Homo sapiens: one gene and its partners. The protein of the gene in region 2 purifies or fractionates together with the protein of the main gene of each other region. This does not show direct contact. Each region holds a gene or a part of one and is shown on either strand. Other genes may lie near its edges.

Region 1 (3,500 bases), on a different chromosome or scaffold from region 2:
GTGGGCAGAACAGCACTGCCCTATCTTTGCATATGCCGGACAAACGCCTGCACCAACTGGATCAGAGGCTCCTGACTCTCAGGGCTGGCTTTGGAGAGAGAGGTGGACTTGCCCTGCGGCGAGGGGAGGACACCAGTGGCAGGGGAGCTGGGGGCTCCCCGGCGGAAGTAGCGCGAGAGGCTGGACAGCAGCGTGCTCTACAAGAAAAAAAGTGGCTTGGTGAGGCTCAGCACATCTGGCTACTGTTCTGACCCTTGGGGGTTGCCAGGCAGGACCCCACAGGGCTCTGGCCCTATTGGTCCAGCCCTCCGTATCCCTATCCATCCGTACCAACTCAGAGCTGAGCTCCTGCTTCATCCGCTGTTTGTCCCGGGGGTGCACAGCCGGGTCCCTAAGGTACCGCATCGCCTGAGAGATGAGCAGGTAGAAGCAGTTTTCCATGGTAAACATCAGGAGGGACCTGGGAGGAGACACAGGTTTTTGGTACTGCTGCAGAGGGCCAGGCTGGCCAAGCTTGAGAACAGTGGGCCCATGACTGCCCCAGCCCCTTATCAAATCCCAGAAAGAGCACTTACTTTAACGTCCTGGTCCCTTCTGCCTGTGTGCTGAGCCCCACTGCCTGGGTGAGGGGCTCCTTTTTCTTGTCCAGCTGAAGAGAAGCAAGGGTAAAAAACTAAGACAACAGGAACAGCTCCCACTTACTGAGAGCTTCCTACTTGCATGTCCTGCACTAAGCAAATTTAATCAGTTACCTCATTTAATCCTCACAGTAATTCTCAGAGGTGCTGTCATGTTCAGTTTACAGAGAGGAGCAGGCTTGGGAGGCTAGGTACCATGCCCAACATGCCCAAGGTCAGCTGGGAAGTGGCAGGCAGGGGGAGGAGCCGGGGGGAGAGGACAGTGTCTGACAGAACCAACTTACCTCTCCAAGCATGTTGAGGGCCACATTCACTGTGGCCAGAAGGGTCCCGAAGGAGGGGGCCACTTCGGAGTCAAAGGTGGGAGTGGTAAAGCTCAGGGCAAACAGGAAGTTGTATTCAGCAAGGTCCAGGGACTGCGAGAAAAGACAAGAGCCATCCAGGACCCAATTAAGGCCCCAGGTAGCTCTCGGTACACAGCAGAGCAGAGCCTTTAGGGGAGGTGGTGCTGAACAGATGATGGGCAGTACCTGATCCAGCAGAATCTGGCAGACATCTGGGGTGAAGTGGCGCAGGGCTGCCAGCGTCTTGCTGAGGATCTTGAGAAGGCCATACTGGACTGTGTGCAAGGCCTGCTGCTCTGATGCCTCTGTGTCAGCAGCGGGCTGCTTTGAGGAGGAGGGGGCAGCAGAAGCAGCAGACGGTGGCCTCTGGACTCGCTGGGCAACAGCTGAGGGGAGGCCATCCCCATTTTTGTTCTAAGGAGAGTCAAGAAATGAAGGTGGAGCTTGGGAAGCTAGCGTGAGGTATTCCAGGACCTCATGGCATAGGACGCTTACCTGTAAGTAATGCTGCAGCATCTTTCGACTGTGCAGGAGAGAGGTACATGCCTGGCACAAGTAACCCAGGTTGACCTGGGAGAGACACAGGAGAGATGAGCGGATTCTCTTGTCAGCAGCCCAGTCACCCAACCAGACCAACCCAATAGCCCTCCATGTAACACCCATGCGCTCCTCACTCGCTGCTGCTCTTCTCTCCCTCCTTCCCTCATGCTCCCCTTCTCTCCCTCCTTCCCTCATGCTCCCCTTCTCTCCCTCCTTCCCTCATGCTCCCCTGGCCACTTTCCAGCTTAAAGCCCCTATAGCCACTAAGTACTCAGGGCTACAAACTTGGGCCAGCAGGGCTCAGGACTGGACTGTCTCCCTGAGACCCAGCTAGGTGCCTGGTATATTGTAAGGTCCTAAAGTAAAGAAGATGAGGCCGGGTGCGGTGGCTCATGCCTGTAATCCCAGCACTTTTGAGGTCGAGGCAGGCGCATCACGAGGTCAGCAGATCGAGACCATCCTGGCTAACACGGTGAAACCCTGTCTCTACTAAAAATACAAAAAATTAGCCGGGCGTGGTGGCGGGCGCCTGTAGTCCCAGCTACTCGGGAGGCTGAGGCAGGAGAATGGCGTGAACCCGGGAGGCGGAGCTTGCAGTGAGCCGAGATGGCACCACTGCACTCCAGCCTGGGCGACAGAGCAAAACTCTGTCTCAAAATAAATAAATAAATAAAATAAGATGAGGATTATGGCTGATTCCATTTTATAGGAAAAGAATAAAAGGTTACAAGTAACAAGTGACTTGGCCAAGGTCATACAACCAGCAGATAAGAGAAGCCTGCCTGGCTCTGGAGCCTGTGTTCCTTCCTCACCCCTCCCTTCTCCAGCTGGTTCCCAGCTCCAGTTGTGTGTGTTTTTTTGGTTTTGTTTAGTTTAGTTTTTTTTTTTTTTTTTTGAGACGGAGTCTCACTTTGTCACCAGGCTGGAGTGCAGTGGCGTGACCTCGGCTCACTGCAACCTCCACCTCCTGAGTTCAAGCGATTCTCCTGCCTCAGCCTCCCGATCCTGAGTAGCTGGGACTACAGGCGTGTGCCACCACACCCAGCTAATTTTTGTTATTTTTAGTAGAGATGGGGTTTCACCATGTTGGCCAGCCTGGTCTCGAGCTCCTGACCTCATGATCCTCCCGCCTTGAATTCCCAAAGTGCTGGGATTACAGGCGTGAGCCTATTGCACCCGGCCATTTTTTTTTTTTTTTCTTTTTGGGACGGAGTCTCGCTCTGTCACCCAGGCTGGAGTGTAATGGTTCGATCCTAGCTCACTGCAACCTCCGCCTCCCAGGTTCAAGCGATTCTCCCAACTCAGCCTCCCGAGTAGCTGGGATTACAGTCACGTGCCACCACGCCCAGCTAATTTTTGTATTTTTAGTAGAGACAGGGTTTCACCATGTTGGCCAGGCTGATCTCGAACTCCTGACTGCCTCCCAAAGTGCTAGGATTACAGGCGTGAGCCACCATGCCCGGCCCCAAGTGTATTCTTAAGGGATCTGAACCAAGATCTAACTGATAAAAGTCCAAATTCTTAACCTACATGGCTGCCCTTGACTATGGAAGGAAACATTTAGCCAGAGTAAGCACATGACAGCAAACCCTGTGCTCCCCAAGGGAAAAGCCCCCGTTCAGGAACATCCTGCAATTCACTAGGAGTGCCCCAGTGAGACCTCACAGCCTCCCTGTCTCCAAGCATTACCCCAGACTCCAAGACACCATCTTGGGCCCCCACCTGGATATCACGCATGAGCTGAGGCAGGTGGAAGTGCCACTCCTTCATGAAGTTAGAGAGCTGCAGAATAAAACCCACGGTGTGGTCCGCCTCCTCCAGGCAGGCCAGACTCTGCACTGTCCTCACTGCGTTGAGGCACTGGGAGGAAAGCACACATCAGGGAAAGATGGGGATGGCTGAGGGACCTGACATACCCACACCTACCCTCCTGTGGAGAGGCAACGTCCCAGGCCCCCAAATGCTGAGTTGGCAAAGA
Region 2 (3,479 bases):
TTCTGTTGACATTTCTTCAAGCTCATAGATCCTTCCTCATCTGGATCCAGTCTACTGAGGAACCATCAAAGGCATCCTCATTTCTGTTACAGTGTTTTCTACTTCCAGCATTTCCTTTTGATCCCTCCTTGGAGTTTCCATCTCTCTACTTACATTGCCCTTCTGTTCCCCATCTGTTCTTGCCTGCTTTTCCCCTGGAGCCCTTGCCATATTAATCACAGTTATTTCAAATTTCCTGTTTGATAATTCCAACATGGGTGCCATATCTGGATCTGTTCTAATGTGTGCATTGTCTCTTCACACTCTATTTTTTTCCTTAAGACCTTGTAGTCTGCCTTGTAATGTTTGTTGAAAGCTGGACGTGATGTATCTGGTAATAAGAGCTGAAGTAGATGGGCCTTTAGTGTGAGGTTTATGTAATCTGGCCAGGTTTGGGGCAGGGTTTAAAGTCTGCTGTAGCTGTGGGCACCAGAGGCTTCACATTTGTTTTCATTTCCCGGGTTGCCCTTGGGCTTGCCTAAATCCTCCTCCTCAGAGAGAGTCTGCGTCTTGTGGCCCTCTCTGCTGGAATCCCTGTCACACTGCGGAGGCCCTGTGGGTGTGTTGGGAAGATGGTGGGGAGGGAACTGTTCCACAGTCTGTGACCAAATCTCAGTCTTGGGGGCCTGTGCCCCTTCACAGTTGTTGATCTGCTTTTCCCCTCCCCTTAGGTGAGACAGGCTAAAGCGGGGTACAGGCTGAAAAACAGTCCTCCCCCAAGTGAGATAAGCCTTTCCTTTGGAGAGCAAATTCCATTTGCTGTGGAGAATGCTCTGGGTGTATTTCACAGTGGTGACTGTCCCCATCCCATGCCAGAGCCAGGAAGGGATCATCCTTGGCTTCATTAAGACCTGGCAGGGTTCCTGGAGGGGAAACCCACAAAACGTTGGGGGCCTCATAAGACCGCAGCCGCAGGAGTTCTGCACACGGCCCCGGCCGCTCCCCAGAGCTGCCCAGGAGGTGTTCCCACACACCATCAGTTCTGCTCCAGGCCAGCAGGTCTCAGCTGTGACTTTGCTCACCTGTCTCTCCAGACTTGGGGGTCGCCGCAGCGCTTTGACCTCAGCTCTCTGATAGGTCCAGGAAAAGTCATTGATTTTCATTAGTTCAGCATTTTTCCTGTCGCAGGGATGGGAGTGAGGCCTTCCACGTTGTTTACCGCAGAGCAGAAGCCAGAAGTCCTTGCTCGTCTCTGTGTTTCTTCGTCGGAGTCATGTCTTTTATTTCCTGAACGCAGGTGTGTGGTCAGACAGGAGATTGGCAGGTATTTCCTCCTGTTCCATGGGCTATCTTTTCTCTTTCTTGAGGGCATCATTTGCAGCAGGGAAGTCTTGGACCTTGACGTTGTCCGATGTGGCTGTTTCCTCCTTGGCTGCTCTGCTTTGTCTAAGGATCCATCACCTCAGCTGAGGCCACAGGGATTTACTCCCACACTTTCTTCTAAGTCTTGTATAGTTTCAGCTCTTGCGTTTAGCTGTGTGATTCATTTTGGGTTAATTTTTATGAACAATGTCAGGTGAGGGTCCAGCTTCATTCTCTCATCGGTGGATATCTGACTGTCCTAGCACCATTTGCTGAAGAGAGGATTCTTTCCCCATTGAATTGCTTTTGACATCATACCTTGTTTTTTGACTTGCCGTTTTATCCCATTGGTCCAGACGTCTGCCCTGCGCCGGGACTGCACCATCTTGATAACTGTAGCTTTGTAGCAAGCTTTCAAATCAGGATCTGTGAATCCCCCAGTTTTGTTCTTTTTGGACATTATTTGACTGTTCTGGGTCCCTGGCATTTCCACTGAATGCTGAGGGGTCTGACAGTTGCATCTGAGCTGCCAAGCAGGTTTGTGGCGGTGCTAGGGACTGAAGCCTGCTCCATTTCCCAGGCCCCTCCTCGCTGTGGGTGACATCTGGGGTCCGAGGCTGTGTCTCAGCATGTGTGAAGGTGCCACAGGTGCCCTGAGATGGGGATTCCTGGTCCAGTTACTCAGAAAGTGCATCCAGGAGAGACCCCCGCCCTTCTCGGGATGGGAGATGCCAGCAGAGCTTGGCTTTCAAGCAGAAATCTGGAAATCCTGTGGGGAGTGGCTTCGGACTTCAGGGGACCTGGAGCGTCACTTGCGGTTCAAGAGGTCCCTGCCCTGAGGGAGCTGGGCTCTCAAACACCCACACCAGTCAGTCATGGGCGAAGGGCCCCTCTGTGGCCTTCTGACTGTGTGTGTGCTGGCAAAGGGTTCCAGCCACCCAAGGAGGAGGCAGGGGCTGTCAGAGGAAGAGCAGGGCAGATCCAGGCCAGGCACAGACCCTGCCATGGGGTACTGCTGGCGGCGCTACACACACCTTGGGAAGGGAGTCCCTGTGGAAAGGGGTCGTGGTCACACATCTAGGTGACACAGCCCGGCTTGGGCGCTGCTCAGAGCCACCCCTTCCAGATGGTTCTGGAGCAGCTCCTCAGGCTTCTGGTGGCCTCTCTGCCTAGGAAAACATGGCTGTGGACGTTGCAGGATGACCAACAGCCCCTGCCACTGGGCTGCACACAGGGCCACGACGGGCGCTCATGTTCTGCATCACTGGCGCCCACCCCAGCCCCTCCCACCTTGTGTCGCTGTGAATCGCAGGATCCCAGCGGCTCAGTCGGACCCTCATTCCTGAGTAGTCTGAGCCTTAGGTCACCGTCACCTTCTCAGGCCGGCCCGAGTTTGCAGACTTGTCTGTCTATATCAGGGTTAGACCAGAGAGTGCTGAGACACAGCAGATCACCCAGCCTGTCCTCTTCTTGATGACTAAGGACAGGTCCCCTGCCAGGATCGTGACTCCTTTAGGGGAGGCCACAGTGACAGGGCAAAGCCTGGAGGGAGAGAGCCACATGGAGAGGAGAGGGCTGCCCGCAGAGAGCGTGGGAGTCTGCCGGCTTCTTCTCGAGTCCTTGGCAAGGTGCTGGCCGCTCACACCGTGTACGTGTGGGGAATGCCCAGGACCAGGGTGACACCACCAGGAGGAGCGGGCGGGACAGTCCCCACTCAGGGCTAGGAAGAGAGAGTCCACATTCCCGCTGCCAGGGTGAAACCCTCACACCACCACAGATCCAGGAGAGACACGGAGGGCACTGCCTCGGGGTGGGGAACGTGAGCTGCTCCCCAAACCCAAGAAATGTGTTGAGCCCTATGCTTCCTTCCTCGTGGGAAGAGGCGCAAGGTGAGACCGCTTGTCCTTTATCTTGGCGGGCACGTCCGAGTGTGACGCACGTCAGCAAATCCCTGAACCGTTCATCGGAGAACAGCCTTCTGCATCTCCCACACTCTGTTCGTGGGTTTACAGGGTGTCCAGAGTACTTGCCACTTGGCAATCAGCATTAATAGGATCCACAGGGCCAGGCATGGTGGCTCACGCCTGTAATCTCAGCACTTTGGGAGGCCGAAGCAGGCGGAGCACCTGAGGTCAGGA
Region 3 (3,500 bases), on a different chromosome or scaffold from region 2:
CTGAGATCAGGAGTTCAAGACCAGACTGGCCAACATGGTGAAACCCCATCTCTACTAAAAATACAAATATTAGCTGGGCGTGGTAGCAGGTGCCTGTAATCCCAGCTACTTGGGAGGCTGAGGCAGGAGAATCACTTGAACCCGGGAGGCGGAGGTTGCAGTGAGCAGAGGTCGCGCCACAGCACTCCAGCCTGGGTGACAGAGGGAGACTCTGTCTCACCAAAGAAAAAAAAAAAAAAAAAACCTCTCCCAACTTATTTGATCTTGGAATCCTTTATTGGCCAATCACCTACTACCATGGTGCTGACTTCCACGGAACACAGATTGGGAAAAATGATATCCCAAGTCATAAAAAAAATGTTTTTGGCTGGGCGCGGTGGCTCACACCTGTAATTCCAGCACTTTGGGAGGATCACAAGGTCAGGAGATCGAGACCATCCTGGCTAACACGGTGAAACCCTGTCTCTACTAAATATACAAAAAATTAGACAGGTGTGGTGGTGGGCACCTGTAGTCCCAGCTACTCCAGAGGCTGAGGCAGAAGAATGATATGAACCCGGGAAGCAGAGCGTGCAGTGAGCTGAGATCATGCCACTGCACTCCAGCCTGGGCAACACAGTGAGACTCCGTCTCAAAAAAAAAAAAAAAAGTTTTTGTACTCTGTATACTACTTGAGAAAGGTTTTAGCTATCTTTTTTAAATATTTCCAAACAAAATGGTTAAAAGTGTAAATAGCTTTCACACCTGAATGGATAAACTCTCCATGAACCCAAAAGTTTTAACTGTTGCAATTCACACTATAGCAAGGAAATAAAGTAAAGGCAGAAGTTGTGCAGGGAGGGGGGAAGAAGGCCATGGTTCCTTTTTTATTTGAGACGGAGTCTTGCTCTGTCGCCCAGGCTGGAGTGCAGTAGCACGATCTCAGCTCACTGCAACCTCCACTGCCTCCCAGGTTGAAGCGATTCTCCTGCCTCAGCCTCCTGAGTAGCTAGGATTACAGGCGTGCGTCACCATGCTCAGCTAATTTTTGTGTTTTCAGTAGAGACAGGGTTTCACCATGTTGGTCAGGCTGGTCTCGAACTCCTGACCTCGTGATCCACTCGCCTCGGCCTCCCAAACTGTTGGGATTACAGGCGTGAGCCACCACACCCAGGCTTTTTTTTTTTTTTTTGAGTCTCACTCTGTTGCCCAGGCTAGAGTGCAGTGGCATAATCTCGGCTCACTGCAACCTCCACCTCCCAGGTTCAAGCAATTCTCCTGCCTCAGCCTCCCTAGTAGCTGGGATTACAGGTGCACACCACCACACCTGGCTAATTTTTGTACTTTTTTTTTTAATAGAGACGGGGTTTCACCATGTTGGCCAGGATGGTCTCAAACTCCTGACCTTGTGATCTGTTGACCTCAGCCTCCCAAAGTGCTGGGATTACAGGCGTGAGCCACCGTGCCTGGCCAAGGCCATGGTTCTAAAGAAAGGCAATTTCAGCTGGGCCCAGTGGCTCGTGCCTGTAACCCCGGCATTTTGAGAGGCTGAGGCAGGCGGATCACTTAAGATCAGGAGTTCAGGACCAGCCTGGCCAACATGGTGAAACCCCATCTCTACTAAAAACACGAAAATTAGCTGGGTGTGGTGGCGCACACCTGTAATCCCAGCTACTGGAGAGGCTAAGGCATGAGAATCGCCTGAACCCAGCGAGGCAGAGGTTGTAGTGAGCCGAGAGCGTGCCACTGCACTCCAGCCTGGGTGACATCGTGAGACTCTGTCTCAAAAAGAAGAAAAAAACACAAAAAAAACCACAAAATTTATTTTTGATATGGAACACTGTCATTCGAGAAACCCCATCTCTACTAAAAATACAAAAATTAGGCAGGCATGATATGGGCACCTGTAATCCCAGCTACTCGGGAGGCTGAGGGCAGGAAAATCGCTTGAACCCAGGAGGTGGAGGTTGCAATGAGCTGAGATCGTGCCATTGCACTTCAGCCAGGGCAACAGTGAGAGACTCTGTCTCAAAAAAAAAAAAAAAAAAGAAAGAAAGAAAAACAATGAATATTGTCCAGGGTATGTGGATGAAAAATAAATACCTTTTCCAGCAACACACTTCCCAAGTTCACTGAGGATTTCTCTCCGTTCCTTTACACTGGCTGTTGTCACCTTCCCTGCAAAACGCTTTAGTGTCTCGGAAACCTGTGAAGGCCAAGCAACAGAAAAATTCACTAGTCAGACTATAAAACTATGAGTGTGTGTGTTGAGGGGTGGGTGTAGAATTTGGGGATCTCTCTAACCTGGGGTTTCTCAACCTCCCCACTGGTGACATTTTGCACCGGGTAATTCTGGTTGTGGGGGCCGTGTTTTTAGCAGCATTCCAGGTCTCTACCCACTCGATGTCAGTAGCAGCCCACCTTCCCCACCCGCCCCAGTTGTGACATTGTCAAATGTCTCCTGGCAGGCAAAATCACTCCCACTTGAGATGTACTGCTTTAATTCAACTAGTCAACAAATCAATATACCTTATTTAAACTTTGGCAATAAGAGGAAAGGCAAAGACCTCTGAAAAGAAAATATCCCTTCAGAACTACCCAAAATCTAGCAAGGGCCTGGTACGTGCCAACTATGTTCCCTTTACATTATCTCACTTTAACCTCCCCATAAAGGGAATGTCAGCATCCTGGCAACTCACTGGCAGAGGATAAGCACACTGGCTAAAGGGGGAAAGGTTAGGAGATTGGATCCCAGCTCTGCCTTTTACTAGCTGTAGAAACTTAGTCAAATAATGTCACTCCCCCAATCTTCAGTTTTCTCATCTATAAGATGCGGACAATAGCAGCTACCTCATATGACTGTTATGGAGCTTAAATGAGATTGCGTATAAGGTGCATCTACTCTCATCCCAAGCAAAAAGTTGGCTACTACTACCAAAAAGCCTGCAAGGGAGGCATCAGTATCCCCATTTTATAGGCGATGAAGAAACCATCTCCAAGAGAGGAAGTCACTGCTCAGAGTGGGGTCGAGAGCCACAGCACCTGCGTTTTTGAAACTAACTTTGAAACCAAACAGGTCTATAAACTGATGCTAACAAATCTTTAGCTTTCAACAGCCATCGAGTTACCACAGCTGCAGTCCCCTGCATAGGGACATAAGCATAAGACCCAGTGATGGGGGGCAGTTTGCAAACATCCCTGAAAATCTGCTCTTGAGCAATATTCTACAAGCTACCAAGTGGACAGGTTGTGGATTCATAAGCCGTAGAGCAGGGCATGATAAGGCTCATGTAACTTAACACAGTGGGGTTATCATGTTTTTCTTTTGAGGGTATTTCAAAGGCAGGCCTTATCAGTAGCGTAAGAGTCAAGCGTACACACAGAAATAAAATAATGCTGAGTTTTTCGTGCTTAAATCCCTGCCATAATTCTATTGGCAATGAATAAAAGAAACTGATGTCCAAAACTGTCTTCTACATAAATAATGTAGTTTTAACTTTAAAATGTCTTTTGTTTTTATA
Region 4 (4,188 bases), on a different chromosome or scaffold from region 2:
ATCTCCAGATAGCTTAGAGAGTTTTGTTTTGTTTTTAATAAAAGCTAACTTGTGGTGACAAGCACACACAAGAAAAGTGGGTTTTTCTTTAGCAGAAACCACTTAGCAAGTTAGGCTAGCCTCTGAAGAGCCTAGCCACAACACTCCTCACACCAAACACAAAATAGACACACAACAGTTGCCTCCTCCTCCCTCCTCTATCTTTAGGGGTAATGATTTACCATGACACTCAAATGCTGTTATTGCAGTGGTACTTCCATAAACTGGACATGCATAACAACTATTGTATTTAGGTCACAAACTCACAAAAGAAAAGTCCATCCTGAAAGTAAGTTGACAACTATGTCATCATATAAATAACCTAAACTTCCATGAAAACTCAAAGACCCCTAACATGAGGACTTGCTTGTTCCCAGCATTCCTTGGAGAGGCAGAATATCCCCATTTTAAGGGTAGGAAAATTGAGGAATAAGTACTGAATTTACCAGTCTTTGTTGAGATAAGGAAATGTAATAGCATAAATTTTGCTAGGAAATGCATATTATGGTTTTGTAAGAAAGTCTAACCCATGGTCCAAGAAGCCCAGATTCTTACCTATTAATGGCATGAAAGGCTTTCTGAGATGATGCTATTGTTCTCTCAGAAAAAGAAGAGTAACACTCTTAAGTCATTCTGGTTTCCCTTAGTAACTCTTTCTTAAATAGCCGTGAATGTTATCTACACCGTTTATAGCTTGTTCTTCTTCTCAAACTGGTATACCACTTCTAAGGTCAGAATTTTATCATGTTCCCTAAAAACTATTATCAGAACTTCTCGTCTGCCCCAAATTGATTTTTAAGAAATAATTTAAGGCATTTCTTAAAATTCTGAAATTTGGTGGAAAAGCTCATGTTCGCCTATCCAAATCCTTCATGAATGTAAGCGTCTTCATCCACAGCCTTCCTACACCATTTCTCTTTCCTGAAGGCAAGTAGTATGGGTCAGTGGAACCGCAGCCTCGAGGCAGAGGCGAGATTTCAGCCTCTTAAGACCTGCAGCTCTGGACAAGTCACTGAACTTCTCTGGACCTCCAAGGGCTCAGAAAAAAATGAAAACATTGAACAGGACGTTCCGAATGTTCTCATCCAGATCTGAAACACTTTTTTTCTTTTCTTTTTTTTTTTGACACGAGTCTCGCTCTGTCGCCCAGGCTGGAGTGCAGCGGCGCAATCTTGGCTCACTGCAACCTCTGCCTCCTGGGTTCAAGCGATTCTCCGGCCTCAGCCTCCCGAGTAGCTGGGAATACAAGTACTTGCCACCACGTCCGGCTAATTTTTGTATTTTTAGTATATGCAGGGTTTCACCATGTTGGCCAGGCTGGTCTTGAACTCCTGACTTTAGGTGATCCGCCCGCCTCGGCCTCCCAAAGTGCTGGGATTACCGGCGTGAGTCACCACGCCCGGCCATACTTTTTCTTTTAACCTGTTCTATCATGTTAAGATACCTTTTGCTGTGCTCTTTCTTCAACTCTACTGTGTTTCTTAGCTGAAGACCTCATGAGTAGGCTGTGTTCCAAAACAAAAAGCACCTTATGACTTGGTATGGTGGTTTTCATTATGGAACTGAAGCTACTTTTGACAGACTCATCTTGCATCAAGTTCTCCCTGAGACATACGGGAGGGGAAATGGGTGGGGTGTGTATGGCACAGGAATAGCCACAGTTAAGTGGCTGAGGAGGCCAGAACAAGTACATGCTGGTTCCCTATTCCATCTATTTCCCTGTGTCTGAAATTCTCCAAAATACAAAGTTAAAAAAGAAAAGAAAAGCACATCTCTTTCAAAGAGAGAAGTATATTTGATTGGCATTATTACAGGATTTTGTCTGGAGACTTTGGTATGGTATAACTGCTCTTCACACCATTTCCCTTGGATTGAGATAGAATCTACAAGACATGAAACTAAGGAGAGCTCCTCAAAGTTCAGCCAAAATTAAGGAAAATGAACCAAAAACAAAATTCCTCAAATGACCTCAAGGTTATCCATGAGAAGATCCATGGTAATACTTGGCAGAGGATGGAACTTATTTCCATCGTGCTACACCGTATGTCTCCTATAAGCTATTTTCTGCAACTTCTGAACAGCTAAACTTCAGCCCTCTGTGACATGGAAAGCGAGGAAATAAACAAGCCCCACTGGGAGAAGGATGCCTCAGAGGGTGCTGAAATAAAAAAGGAAAGGCAAGGGATTTCAGGAGTTAAGAAATCCTAAAGAAAAATGGGAGCATGCATTTGGAGAAGGAGAGGGTAAAGACATGCATCTTACGGCAGCCAGAGAACACAGGAAGGGGAATGACAGGGGAAGGCGCTTCCTGGTGCTCCAACGCCCAGCAGCCCTCGCCACCCACATCCCCGGACTCCCGGGGCGGGAGGGCTGCGCACACCTGGGACTTGGGGGAGGCGAGGGGCTCCGAGGAGCCGGGCTCGGAGAGCAGGCGAGCGGAGAGGCGGGCGGCCGGGGTTCGGGGCGGGCGCGGACCGTTCCATCCCGGACGGGGGGCACCCGCTCCACCCGCCGGGGATCCCCGGGGCGCGGCGATGGTGCCTCCTGACGCCGGCGCAGCGTCGCCGGGGCGTCCCAGACCGCAGGCCCCGCGCGGCCGCCCAAGCCCGGCTCCCACGTCCCGCTCTCGGCTCCCCGGAGGTCGGAGACTTTGAGGTAAGGGGCCAGCTCCCTCCTACTCACCGACCGCGAGGCTAGGCAGCTCCAAATCCCGCGGCGACCGCTCCCTCCCGCCCTTGCCGCCGCCGCGGGCCCAAGCTGCGTCAGGACGTGCGCGCGCCCGCCTTTGTCTGCGCCGCCCAACGTGACCCTGCGCCCACCGCCCCGCACGCTCCCGTCGGGCGCGCGCGGGCCGGCAGGGCGGGGGCCTAGGGAGAGGCGGGTGCCGCGTGGACCGGTCGCGGGTTGGGCGACCCGCGGAGTCGCCCTCTGGCGGACTAGGGGGCACTGCCGGGGGCGGGGCGGGGCAGGAGCAGGAGAGGCCGGGCCCTGGCTGTCCCTCCGCTGGCGCGTCCCTCTCAGAAAGCGGAGCGCTTCCCTGCGTTAGGACCCGATACTGGCTCCCTCCCCGGAGGTTCGCTTGTGTGTTCCGGAGAGGGTGAAATCAGGCTGGCACCGCGGGAAGAGGCTAGAGTCACTAAATCACCTTGTCCTCTTGAGGCTGCTGTCCGTATGCAGCGACATTCTGCCCGTTAGAGGACTCAGCTCAGGGCCTGGTACGCTCAAGATCTGTTAGCTACCAGCACCATCACCACGACCACCGTCATCACCAGCAGTATCCCTCAGCCTCGTCTACCTTGCTCGTCAAGCAGGGTGCTCCAGGAGTGGGTGTAGGCCACTTTCGCCCTGCCTGGCAGATGCAACTTTCCAACTTCCACCTCCACTTGGACCTGCTCTCTCTACTCAAGTCTAGCTGGTGGCTGCTGGAGTTTGCGTGTGTGTTTCTTACTATATCTTCTGACTTCGGACGCCTAACCCAAGCTTATTATCTCCCCTAAAATGGGACCTCCTTAAAATATATATTACCTTTCTTTTTCCTGTTCTTAAAAGACAGTTTGCCTTTAGTGCCAAGCCCTCTCCGCCGGTTTACGCTGTACACGGCTGTCAGATTGTCATTCCGTGCTAAATGCATAATCTGATAATGAAATCTTTAAAGTCCACATTCTTAGACCTCAAAATCTCTGTAAGAATAAAGGGCAGAGTATGGTAGTTCACGCCAGTAATCCCAGCGTTTTGGGAGGCCAAAGCAGGAGGATCGCTTGAGGCCAGGAGTTTGAGACTAGCCGGGGCAACGTAACGAGACCCCCACTTCTACAAAAATTTTGAAAATTAAAAAAAAATGGTGGGGGGAGCGGGGCGCGGGTAGCTCACGCCTGTAATCCCAGCACTTTGGGAGGCAGAGGCGGACAGATCACTTAAGGCCAGGAGTTTGAGACCAGCCTGGCCAACATGGTGAAACCCCGTCTCTACTAAAAATACAAAATTTAGCCGGGGGTGATGGCACGCACCTGTAATCCCAGCTACTCGGGAGGCTGAGACAGGAGAATTGCATGAACCCAGGAGGCAGATGTTGCAGTGAACTGAGATTGTGGCACTATACTCCAGCCTGTGTGACAGAGCGAGACCCAAACTCAAAAAAAAAAAAAAAAA
Region 5 (3,500 bases), about 45 Mb from region 2:
CCTGAGGCCGGGTGCGGTGCTCATGCCTGTAATCCTAGCACTTTGGGAGGCCGAGGTGAGTGGATCACAAGGTCAGGAGATCGAGACCATCCTGGCTAACACAGTGAAACCCTGTCTCTACTAAAAATACAAAAAATTAGCCGGGCGTGGTGGCGGGCGCCTGTAGTCCCAGCTTCTTGGGAGGCTGAGGCAGGAGAATGGCGTGAACCCGGGAGGCGGAGCTTGCAGTGAGCTGAGATCGTGCCACTACACTCCAGCCTGGGTGACACAGCAAGACTCTGTCTCAAAACAAAAACAAAAACAAAAAACAAGTAGTTCCTGAATAACAGATATATTCTTTTTGTTTTTTTTTAATTTTTATGTTTTGAGAAGGAGTTACACTCTTGCTGCCCAGGCTGGAGTACAATGGCATGATCTCGGCTCACTGCAACCTCCGCCTTCCAGGTTCAAGCAATTCTCCTGCCTCAGCCTCCTGAGTAGCTGGGATTACAGGTACCTGCCTGGCTAATTTTTTTTTATTTTTAGTAGAGACGGGGTTTTACCATGTTGGCCAGGCTGGTCTCGAACTCCTGACCTCAGGTGATCCACCCGCCTCAGCCTCCCAAAGTGCTGGGATTACAGGCATGAGCCACCATGCTTGGCCTAACAGATAAATTCTTATATAGAGAACAGGTATGAGGCAGAAGTTAATCTTTTTTAAAAAAGCAACTTTTCTAACAGCATGTGACTATAGAGTAGGAGATGAAAGGGTAATTTTGGTACACAGAGATATAAGGGGATGAGAAGGGTGGAGACATCAGGGTCCTGCAGAACTTAGGTGATATTTACACTCACACAAGAGAATGAACATTGACCTTTCAAAAGCTTTTCCAAAAGCAGAAGAGGAAGGAACACTCCTCAACTCATTCCATGAGGCTAGAATTGTCCTGATACAAAGACTAGACAAAGACATCATAAGAAAACTATAGACCAATGTCACTTACAATAGCATTAAAAGGAGTAAAATATTTAGTTGTAAGACTTCTATGTAAGACTTCTACAATGAGAACTACAAAACATCATTGAAAGAAATCAAGAGACCTAAATAAATGGAAAGACATCTCATATTCAGCATTGGAAGGCTTAATATGGTTAAGATGGCAATACTGGTCAGGTGCAGTGGCTCATGCCTATAATCCCAGAATTTTGGGAAGCTGAGGTGGGAAGACTGCTTGAGCTCAGGAGTTTGAGACCAGTCTGGGATACGTGATGAGACCGTGTCTCCACAAAAAATTAAAAAATTAGCTAGGCACAGTTGCACACCCCTGTGGTTCTAGCTACTTGGGAGGGTGAGGTGAGAGGATTGCTTGAGCCCAGGAGGTCAAGGTTGCAGTGACTGCTGTCTGGTACTCCAGCCTGGGTGAAAGGACAAAACCTTTTTGGGGAGGGTGGGGAAGATGGCAATACTCCACAAATTAGTGTACAGATTCAATGAAATTCCTATAAAAATCCCAGCCTCTTTTTTTCTTTTGTTTTGCAGAAATTTACAAGCTGATGCTAAACACACATGTGACAGGATCAGGGTTCAGGCTCAGGTCTGAGCCTCAATCTGACACTCTCTGTGGAATGGGCAGTCAGGAAATAACAGATAAATAACATCAAATTTGAAGGTTTGCCGAGGAGTGAGAGAAAAAACTCCCTTTGCCTACCTCCTAGGCTTCAAAGCTTTCTGGGCCAAGACGTCAATTTAACTGCATCCTGGGTCAATGAGGCTTTTGCACATTAAGCAAATAAATCAAATTACTAGAGTTTAAGCTGTGTTTTCTTTCAGTATTCCAATGAATCACTTTTTGACCTTTGGAATTATTAGGTACTTGTCAAGTCTGATAAAATTAAGCTGGAGATATTGCAGATATGGGTGACAAATATGACTGAATAAAGTCTGAAACCATTCAAGACTATAAAATGTGTTTGAGATTTAGGGGAAGAGGAAAGACCTTTTAAAAATTATGAAGGCTATTAACAGGCTGAAGATGACTTCAATTCACCATATCTCAGAATCAGTAGGCACTCCTATAAAAGTGTGAGCGAGATAGTTAACTCATATTAACTTACGTTAACAGACTCCATGTAAGGATGCACAAGTTCACAGTAGTGCTGGGTATGCGGCACATCAAAGGCCCAAATGCCTTTTATTATCAAAGACAGGCCAAATCTAGTCAAGTTTTAGAGTTACCTATACTTACTGTATTTCTATATTAGGTTATTTCATGACATTTATTTCATGACTTTTTTTTCCTAAAAATGAATCCGAATAGCTTTATTTCATTTCTCTTTCTTCTTGAGATGTGGTCTCGTTTTGTTGCTCAGGCCAGAGTGTGGCAGGCCAGAGTGCAGTGGCACAATCATAGCTCACTGCAGCCTCAACCCCCCAGGCTTAAGGGATCCTCCCATCTTAGTAGTTGGGACCACAGGCATGCACCATCACGCTTGGATAATGTTTTCATTTTTTGTAGAGATGGGGTCTTGTAATATTGCCCAGGGTGGTCTCGAACTTCTGGGCTCAAGTGATCCTCCCACCTCAGCCTCCAAAAATGCTGGGATTACAAGCACCAGCCACCATGCCCAGCCTTTATAGTTTAATTTCATGGGAACTTGTGGGGGAAATGCTAAGAAAGGAAAGTAGAGAAAAATACACTTTATTTTCTATTTAAGTAGACCTTATTTTGTTTAACTATACTGATATTGATAGGACAAGTATTCTATTATTAAGTAACAATTAACATTCTTTTTTTTTTTTTTTTTTTTTTTTTTGAGACGGAGTCTCGCTCTGTTGCCCAGGCTGGGGTGTAGTGGCGTGATCTTGGCTCACTGGAAGCTCTGCTTCCCAGGTTCACACCATTCTCCTGTCTCAGCCTCCTGAGTAGCTGGGACTACAGGCACTCGCGACCACGCCTGGCAAATTTTTTGTGTTTTTAGTAGAGATGGGATTCCTACTAAACCCCGTTAGCCAGAATGGTCTCGATCTGACCTCGTGATCCACCTGCCTCGGCCTCTCAAAGTGCTGGGATTACAGGTGTGAGCCACCACGCTCGGCAGTAAGTATTAACATTCTATTAACTATACTGATAGGGCAAGCATTCTATTAAGTAGTTATGCATATTCTATTCAAACAAATTAGAAGCCTTCTAGATTAAAAAAAATATAGGTTTAAACTGCTTGAAAATTAAAGGGTACATGACAAATACTTACATATCATAAAAAGAATATTCAGATTGTGCACAAAGAAAATATAAACACAGATAATAGTAAGATACAAAAACATCAAGCAAACAAAGATTAATATCTTCAGAAATGTTGTATGTTTGGCAAAAGCTCCTATAACAAATAGTAGGAGGCCGGGCACAGTGGCTCCTATCTGTAATACCAGCAGTTTGGGAGTCCGAGATGGGTGGATCACCTGATGTCAGGAGTTCAAGCCCAGCCTGACCAACATGGCAAAGCCCCATCTCCAGTAAAAA
Region 6 (3,500 bases), about 13 Mb from region 2:
ATGTCTCTTTCGGGCGTTTTTTTTTTTCCCCAGGGGAAAGCGCAAATGCAGTCCCAGGTGGTTTTTGTTTGTTTGTTATTTTTGAGATGGGGTCTTGTTCTGTCGCCCAGGCTGGAGTGCAATGGCACGACTTCGGCTCACTGCAACCTCCACCTCTCAGGTTCAGGCAATTCTCCTGCCTCAGCCTCCCGAGTAGCTGGGATTACAGGCACCCGCCACCATGCCCAGCTAATTTTTGCCTTTTTAGTAGACACAGGGTTTCACCATGTTGGCCAGGCTGGTCTCGAACTCCTGACCGACTGCAAGTGATCCAACTTACGGGTGGTTTGTTAGGCCCAGAACCTTCATTTCAAACTAGTGACCTATTTTCTTACTGGCAGCAATTTCTCTGTTACTTATAATTATTTTATCTCTGTCATAATTCATTTAGGTAAGGAGCTATGCTACTAGATGGTCTAGTGGAAATACCATTAGCATGTATCTGATAGTTTATAATTCAGCTTTGTCAGTCAGTGATAGGATTTAAAGTAATATGTTTGGTGAGCTGAATAATGACGTATTTACCGATGGAATGAACAACCATCTTTTCTGAGCTTCCCTGCCACCAACATGCTGGTCAGTAGAAGGACATACCCTGGCTGGCTAAGGGAGTCCTCTGGATCCCACACTGCCAGAAGCCCGGTTAGTCCCTTCACTTCATATCAGGGCTGTTCCACTCTGCTTGATATGTCATTTGCAAACAACTAAAGTCTTCAGCTAAAGTCATTTCACAGGGACCAAAAAAGATCTCACCTGCTAAAAACATATTATTTTAAAAGTCCACACCCAAAATGAAAAGACCATAGACTATACCAGGTTCTCACGGCTGAATGCACTCAGTAGTCACTGTGTTGAACTGAACAAAAGAATACTTTGGCCAGGCCCAGTGGCTCACCCCTGCAATCCCAGCACTTTGGGAGGCCAAGGTGGGCAGATCACTTGAGCTCAGGAGTTTGAGACACGACTGGGCAACATGGCGAAACCCCATGTCTATAAAAAGCACAAGCATGAGCCAGGCATGGTGGTGCATATTTAGAATCCCAGCTACTTGGAAGGCTGAGGTGAGAGAATCACCTGAGCCTGGGAGGTTGAGGCTGTAGAGCCGTGATCACACCATTGCACTCCAGCGACAGAAGGAGACCCTGTCTCAAAAAAAAAAAAAAGAAAGAAAAGAAAAAGAAAGAAGAAGAAAAAGAAGAAACTAATAGTAAAAATTATTCAGAATTGAGGCCTTGAAAAGGAGTTTTGGATCAGAGAATTCAATGTTCTAAGTCCATTCTTGACAAAAGTAGTCCTTAGCAATGAAGACTATAAGGACATCTGCTGAATGGGAGAAGCAGGGGCTCTTTTAACCCCAGAAAGGGGTGTCCACTGACCTCTGTAAGTGCAGAGCAGGCTGGGAGGGGAGTGGCCCCCAATCAGCACACACTGGGAGGGCAGATATTGGATTTGAAGAATAGGATCTCACTCTCAGAGGTACCCAGCACTTGTCAGATGCCTGTCTGTGGCAGTCAGCCTCACGGGTCACCATGGCAACAGTACCCAGTTATTTAATCCAGCACTCATCTAGCTGTTGCTGTAGGGGTACTCTGCAGACACAGGGCACGTCTGCAATCAGCTCACTTTAAGAAAAGCAGGTTACCACCAGGCGCGGTGGCTCACACCTGTAATCCCCGTACGTTGGGAGGCCGAGGCGGGCGGAACACCTGAGGTCAGGAGTTTGAGACCAGCCTGGCCAATACGGTGAAACCCCACCTCTACTAAAAATACAAAAATTGGCTGGGCGTGGTGGTACGCACCTGTAATCCCAGCTACTCAGGAGGCTGAGGGAGGAGAATCGCTTGAACCCAGGAAGCGGAGGTTGCAGTGAGCTGAGATCACGCCATTGCACTCCAGCCTGGGTGACAGGGCAAGACTCCGTCTCAAAAAAAAAAAAAAAGAAAAGAAGGTTACCCTCCACAATGTGGGTGGGCCTCATCCAATCAGTTAGAGGCCTTATAGGCAAAAACTGAGGTTTCCCAAAGAAGAAATTCTGTCTCAAGGCTGTAGCAGCAGCTCCTGTCCAAGTTTCCAGCCTCCAGGCCTGCCCTGCAGATTCCCACAATTGTGTAAGCCAATTCCTTAGAACAAATCTCCTAATAGACATGTACTGCCCAGGTGCGGTGGTGCACACCTGTAATCCCAGCACTTTGGGAGGCCACGGTGGGAGGATCACTTGAACTCAGGAGTGAATGGGAGGGACAATGGAGACAGAGGTGCATGCTTTTCTTTTGAGAGATTTCAAAAAGGAATTGGGGGCCAGGCATGGTGGCTCATGCCTGTAATCCTAGCACTTTGGGAGACCGAGGTGGGTGGATCACTTGAGGCCAGGAGTTCGAGACCAGCCTGGCCAACATGGTGAAACCCCGTCTCTATTAAAAATACAAAAATAAGCCAGGTGCAGTGGTGTGTGCCTGTGGTCCCAGCTACTTGAGAGGCTGAGGTGGGAGGACCGCTTGTGTTAGGGAGGCAGAGGTTGCAGTGAGCCAAGACTGCACCATTGCACTCCAGGCCAGTGCGACAGAGCAAGACCCTGTCTCAGAAAGAAAGATTATGTACATATATCCCATTGGTTCTGTTTCTCCAGAGAACCCAGACTAATGCCCCATCTTATCAGGGGGCAAAATGAGAAATTTCTCTCTCAGCATGCTAAGGAAAGACGGGTAAAGAAAGGTTGAAGGCAGACATGAATTTGTCACCGGCTTTCAAACAGAAAAGTCTAGTCGTTGCCCAAAAGGCAAGCAGCTATAGCTTCATCCTGTCTCTTACCTTTGTCCCAGCAATTCTGGAATGACCCAGGACATTGCCTTCCTTGTCCATGACCGCAATCCCCTTAATGGATTCAAGACTTCGGGACATGTAGACATTCATTCCACTGGCTTGCACTGTAGATGTAAAGAAGTAAAGAACACCCAAGACGGGGGTGAGTCTTGTTCCAGCAAAGGAACATCTCTTTGGGTGTCTGCCCCCTGCAAGCCTCTTTCTCTGACAGCTGGCCTTTCTTGACCCTCAGGTGGACACCTGCCATAGGCTGGGCCAACCAAGTGCTCTCCTGGGGCTGTGGAAGTAGGCTAAGAACTGCTGGCCACTCAGTCTTGGATCCTGACCACAGCCTGGGACCAGCTTCCAGCACCCCTGCTTCCTTACCGGATTCTAGGAGAAACCCTGGGATCTTGGAAACATATTCCTCCCTCGTCTTTGCTTAAGTTTTTTTTTTCAGACAGAGTTTCACTCTTGTTGCCCAGGCTGGAGTGCAATGGTGTGATCTCAGCTCACTGCAACCTCCGCCTCCCGGGTTCAAGCAATTCTCCTGCCTCAGCCTCCAGAGTAGCTGGCATTACAGGCATGCCCCACCACGCCCGGCTAATTTTTGTATTTTTAGTAGAGACGGGGTTTCATCATGTTGGTCAGGCTGGTCTCAA
Region 7 (3,500 bases), on a different chromosome or scaffold from region 2:
TAAGATGGGAGAGGAGGGCGTATCCCATCTCTTCCCTGGCCTTGGCCCTTGCCAGGGTCAATGACCCTGAAAGAGGCACTCTCTTTTCCTCAGTCACTTTTGAATTGCTCTCCCACCTGGAGGAGTAGAAACCCTGATGCTGAAACAGAAGTCAGGCTCCTCGGTGGGCAAAGGCAGGCCAACTTAGATGGCCAGGGAAGGAGGGCTAGTAATTGGGGGCGCCCCTAGGGATGGCCTTCAAAGCTCTCACAGTGAAGCTGGTTTGATCCTCACACTGGTCTGCACAGTTGTTCATACAATTAGAGTTGAGTCCAAGGAATAGACTCCTTTTCCTCTGCTCCCAGCATTTTTATTAAGGTAGAAGTTAAAAAAACAGATGCTAAAACTAAACAAAACTAAAAAACCAACCAACCAACCAACCAATCAACCAACCAACTAAAAAAACTGTCCGGGTGATGTACCAGCGAGAGGAAATCCCTGCCCTTTCATGCTGCTGTCGCCCATGCAGACATCCTTCCTGTGGTCTGAGCAGGACTTTCCCCCCTGCTTTGCCAGGGTGTGGGAATTCTGGCAGTGCTAATTGCCTGGTTCCAAACGCCCAAAAGCCTAAAGCTGGTCCTGTCAAAGATTAATGTGAACTAAAATAGACTAAATACACCTATTCCTTTGTACAGAACATATTGTAGAGTAAGTCACAAAGATAAAGTCCATGTTAGCCTGGCTGGCTTGAAGCGATAAAACAGCCTTGTTGTGACAAGATTCAACACTCTCCCCTTTAAATGCCCTTTGCTTAAACTTTCAGAACTCTTTCTCACTTTGGAGAAAACTCAAGAATACTGAAGTGCCTCTTACCTGCTCATAGAATTGATTGTGTGCAACATAAAACTTGGAATCAAAAGATTCTTCTGTTACTAACACTTGTTGTCTTTCACCAATCTGTGGAGAGAAGGGGAGGGAAAGAAAGGAAAGATAAGGGTAAACACCTGTGAATCCAAAAATAAAAATAAAGGCTAGCCCAGGTAGGTCTGGACCAAGTAGCGTCTTCTTGAATTTAAAGTAGACTCTACATTGCTGGTTATTTAACAGCGAACCCTGTTCAAATCACGGATTCAAATTTTTTGAAAGACATTAATTATCTGGCAACATAAAATTAGCATAGTATAAACTCTTATTTTCTTACATAACTCTGAAACAGAATTTGATCTCCTTCAACATAAGTAAGATAATTAAAGCTTCTATGACATACAAAAATCTTCTAAATATCACTTTGTTTCCTGAAACAAAGTTGCAAAACAAGCCAGAACAAGCTGCTTCTAATCCAAATTCATGAAAATATTTTGGCAATATGAAAGAATAGTAATAAACATTCATTTGAGTTATGAGGGATGTAACACTAAAGAAAATGCCTCGGAAAACTAGTCATTAGGACCTTGCACCTCCACATTTCATATCTTACATACAATTCTGAAAGTACTGAGTAATTCACAGAGCTATTTACTTATTATATACATTTTCTCTGTCACAGGCAACTGTCTCTTTGCTGCAGTCATGACCCCATGTTCATTTATTATTTTTTAAAGAGAAAGACAGCAAAAACATGGAATTGCTAATTTTCCACAGAATTGATGTACATTATGATCTAGGCACCCATTTTTAATAGCAAAGAAGTAAATCAGCCAAAACAATGGGTAAAGAAGTGTGACTATTCTAAGGAAATTCTATAATTTCCAAGTTTATTCTACTGTGAAATGCAGCACTTAAGGTATCAAGTATTATTATTATTATTATTTTTTTTTTTTGAGACAGAGTCTCACTCTGTCACCCAGGCTAGAGTTCAGTGGCATGATCTTGGCTCACTGCAAATTCCGCCTCCCGGGTTCAAACGATTCTTCTGCCTCAGCCTCCCGAGTAGCTGGGATTACAGGCATGCGCCACTATGCCCGGCTAATTTTTATATTTTTAGTAGAGACGGGGTTTTGCCATGTTGGCCAGGCTGGTCTCGAACTCCTGACCTCAGGTGATCCGCCTGCCTCGGCATCCCAAAGTGCTGGGATTTCAGGCATGAGCCACCATGCCTGGACTCAGTTACTCTTTTTACAAGGTTGTCAAAATGTCTGATACAGCAAAACAACTGTACTGAATGACTGTGCCGGGGATTATTTTTACCAATGCTACTTAATAATTATGACCCCCCCAAATTAAAGCCCACTGGCAAGATAATTTTTTAAAATTCCTATTCTCATTTGTAGGGACTTGTCACCATGTTCAGGCGGTTACCATGAAGGAAACATAAACACAGCTGCACTAAATAGACCACCTAACAATTAAAAAACAAATCAAACTCCCCTCTCTATCATACAATGCCAGTACCTAAATACACCATAATTTACTATCTAGTTTACTATCTCATTCAAAATATAGCCCTCTTAGCCAAAAGTTGTAAGGTCTCTGAGATGACACTTACTAAAGACTCTTTTCACTGTCTGAAAAACAATGGAAGTTCTGGCAACATTAATCCCCTTAAAAAAATCAAGTGTAAAAAAAGAAATTTCCCCCAACTTCCATGTTGAGCTTCAATGGCTCTGTTTATCAAAAAGGGCTGGTGAATATTGGGTATCACTGAAGTATATTCTTCTAGAAGAAAACTTAGAATGTTTGCACACATTTCACAGTGTGAGTTGCTTATGACTTAGGATAAGTATCTGTCAATGGTTCTTAAGGAAATCTGCAATTACACTTCATTTAACATCAAGTTTTCAGGAAATTAACAACAATGTGAAATTGTAGAGCCACTGAAAACTATGCTGCTTCTTTCTTCTTCTTAGAATCAACGTGGAGAGTAAGGCCCATCATGTTTGGGCTGCTCTATTTCATCTGGAGATGATAACAATGACAGTAATATATACAGAGTTAAAAAGACTTGCTATGTTTATATAGTAGAAAGCTGGGCTTTTAATCAACCATAAGAGAACTATTTGTAGGTGAGTATTTAACTATTATTTGCCAAAGAGACTCAGGAGAACCGCAATGTGCACTAATTCATAGTGGCAAACACCTTTTCAGTCATCCTATTTGTGTCCTCAACTGAGGAGTCATCCTATTTGTGTCCCCAGTCTCATTGGCAAGGCCCTTAAAAATCTCCAGAGTGGCCGGGCCCGGTGGCTCATGCCTGTAATCCCAGCACTTTGGGAGGCAGAGGTGGGCAGATCACTTGAGTCCAGGAGTTTGAGACCGCCTGGGTAACATGGCAAAACCCCGTCTCTATAAAAAATACAGAAATTAGCCGAGTGTGGTGGTGTGTGCCTATAGTCCCAGCTACACGAGAGGCTGAAGTGGAAGGATTGCTTGGGCCTGGCAGATTGAGGGTGCAGTGAGTTGTGATCATTCTACTGCATTCCAGCATTGGTGACTGAATAAGACCCTGTCTCAAATAAATAAATAAATAAATAAATAAATAAATAAATAAATAAATAAATAAAAAAAACATCTCCAGAGGCCAG

What was found.
Region 1: the proteins of STK32C (region 2) and NUP188 purify together in Homo sapiens (affinity purification with mass spectrometry; one large-scale study listed by BioGRID and IntAct). This does not show direct contact.
Region 3: the proteins of STK32C (region 2) and GCN1 purify together in Homo sapiens (affinity purification with mass spectrometry; one large-scale study listed by BioGRID and IntAct). This does not show direct contact.
Region 4: the proteins of STK32C (region 2) and GPAT4 purify together in Homo sapiens (affinity purification with mass spectrometry; one large-scale study listed by BioGRID and IntAct). This does not show direct contact.
Region 5: the proteins of STK32C (region 2) and GLUD1 purify together in Homo sapiens (affinity purification with mass spectrometry; one large-scale study listed by BioGRID and IntAct). This does not show direct contact.
Region 6: the proteins of STK32C (region 2) and SFXN4 purify together in Homo sapiens (affinity purification with mass spectrometry; one large-scale study listed by BioGRID and IntAct). This does not show direct contact.
Region 7: the proteins of STK32C (region 2) and CDKAL1 purify together in Homo sapiens (affinity purification with mass spectrometry; one large-scale study listed by BioGRID and IntAct). This does not show direct contact.

The regions. Positions count from the first base shown.
Region 1 is NC_000009.12:129,003,199-129,006,698, reverse strand, and holds part of NUP188 (nucleoporin NUP188), read right to left. Parts: intron 3,383-3,500; coding exon 3,245-3,382; intron 1,553-3,244; coding exon 1,478-1,552; exon of another isoform or gene 1,402-1,477; intron 1,397-1,401; coding exon 1,169-1,396; intron 1,055-1,168; coding exon 923-1,054; intron 650-922; coding exon 576-649; intron 461-575; coding exon 331-460; intron 220-330; exon of another isoform or gene 198-219; coding exon 21-197; 3' UTR 1-20. UniProt on the Homo sapiens protein: Component of the nuclear pore complex (NPC), a complex required for the trafficking across the nuclear envelope. Required for proper protein transport into the nucleus.
Region 2 is NC_000010.11:132,210,472-132,213,950, reverse strand, and holds part of STK32C (serine/threonine-protein kinase 32C), read left to right. Parts: intron 1-3,479.
Region 3 is NC_000012.12:120,188,216-120,191,715, forward strand, and holds part of GCN1 (stalled ribosome sensor GCN1), read right to left. Parts: intron 2,186-3,500; coding exon 2,083-2,185; intron 1-2,082. UniProt on the Homo sapiens protein: Ribosome collision sensor that plays a key role in the RNF14-RNF25 translation quality control pathway, a pathway that takes place when a ribosome has stalled during translation, and which promotes ubiquitination and degradation of translation factors on stalled ribosomes.
Region 4 is NC_000008.11:41,576,812-41,580,999, reverse strand, and holds the start of GPAT4 (glycerol-3-phosphate acyltransferase 4 isoform 1 precursor), read right to left. Parts: upstream 2,801-4,188; 5' UTR 2,722-2,800; intron 2,695-2,721; exon of another isoform or gene 2,632-2,694; intron 2,485-2,631; exon of another isoform or gene 2,420-2,484; intron 1-2,419. UniProt on the Homo sapiens protein: Converts glycerol-3-phosphate to 1-acyl-sn-glycerol-3-phosphate (lysophosphatidic acid or LPA) by incorporating an acyl moiety at the sn-1 position of the glycerol backbone. Active against both saturated and unsaturated long-chain fatty acyl-CoAs.
Region 5 is NC_000010.11:87,070,844-87,074,343, forward strand, and holds part of GLUD1 (glutamate dehydrogenase 1, mitochondrial isoform a precursor), read right to left. Parts: intron 1-3,500. UniProt on the Homo sapiens protein: Mitochondrial glutamate dehydrogenase that catalyzes the conversion of L-glutamate into alpha-ketoglutarate. Plays a key role in glutamine anaplerosis by producing alpha-ketoglutarate, an important intermediate in the tricarboxylic acid cycle.
Region 6 is NC_000010.11:119,152,215-119,155,714, forward strand, and holds part of SFXN4 (sideroflexin-4), read right to left. Parts: intron 2,964-3,500; coding exon 2,848-2,963; intron 1-2,847. UniProt on the Homo sapiens protein: Mitochondrial amino-acid transporter. Does not act as a serine transporter: not able to mediate transport of serine into mitochondria.
Region 7 is NC_000006.12:21,195,457-21,198,956, reverse strand, and holds part of CDKAL1 (threonylcarbamoyladenosine tRNA methylthiotransferase), read right to left. Parts: intron 937-3,500; coding exon 853-936; intron 1-852. UniProt on the Homo sapiens protein: Catalyzes the methylthiolation of N6-threonylcarbamoyladenosine (t(6)A), leading to the formation of 2-methylthio-N6-threonylcarbamoyladenosine (ms(2)t(6)A) at position 37 in tRNAs that read codons beginning with adenine.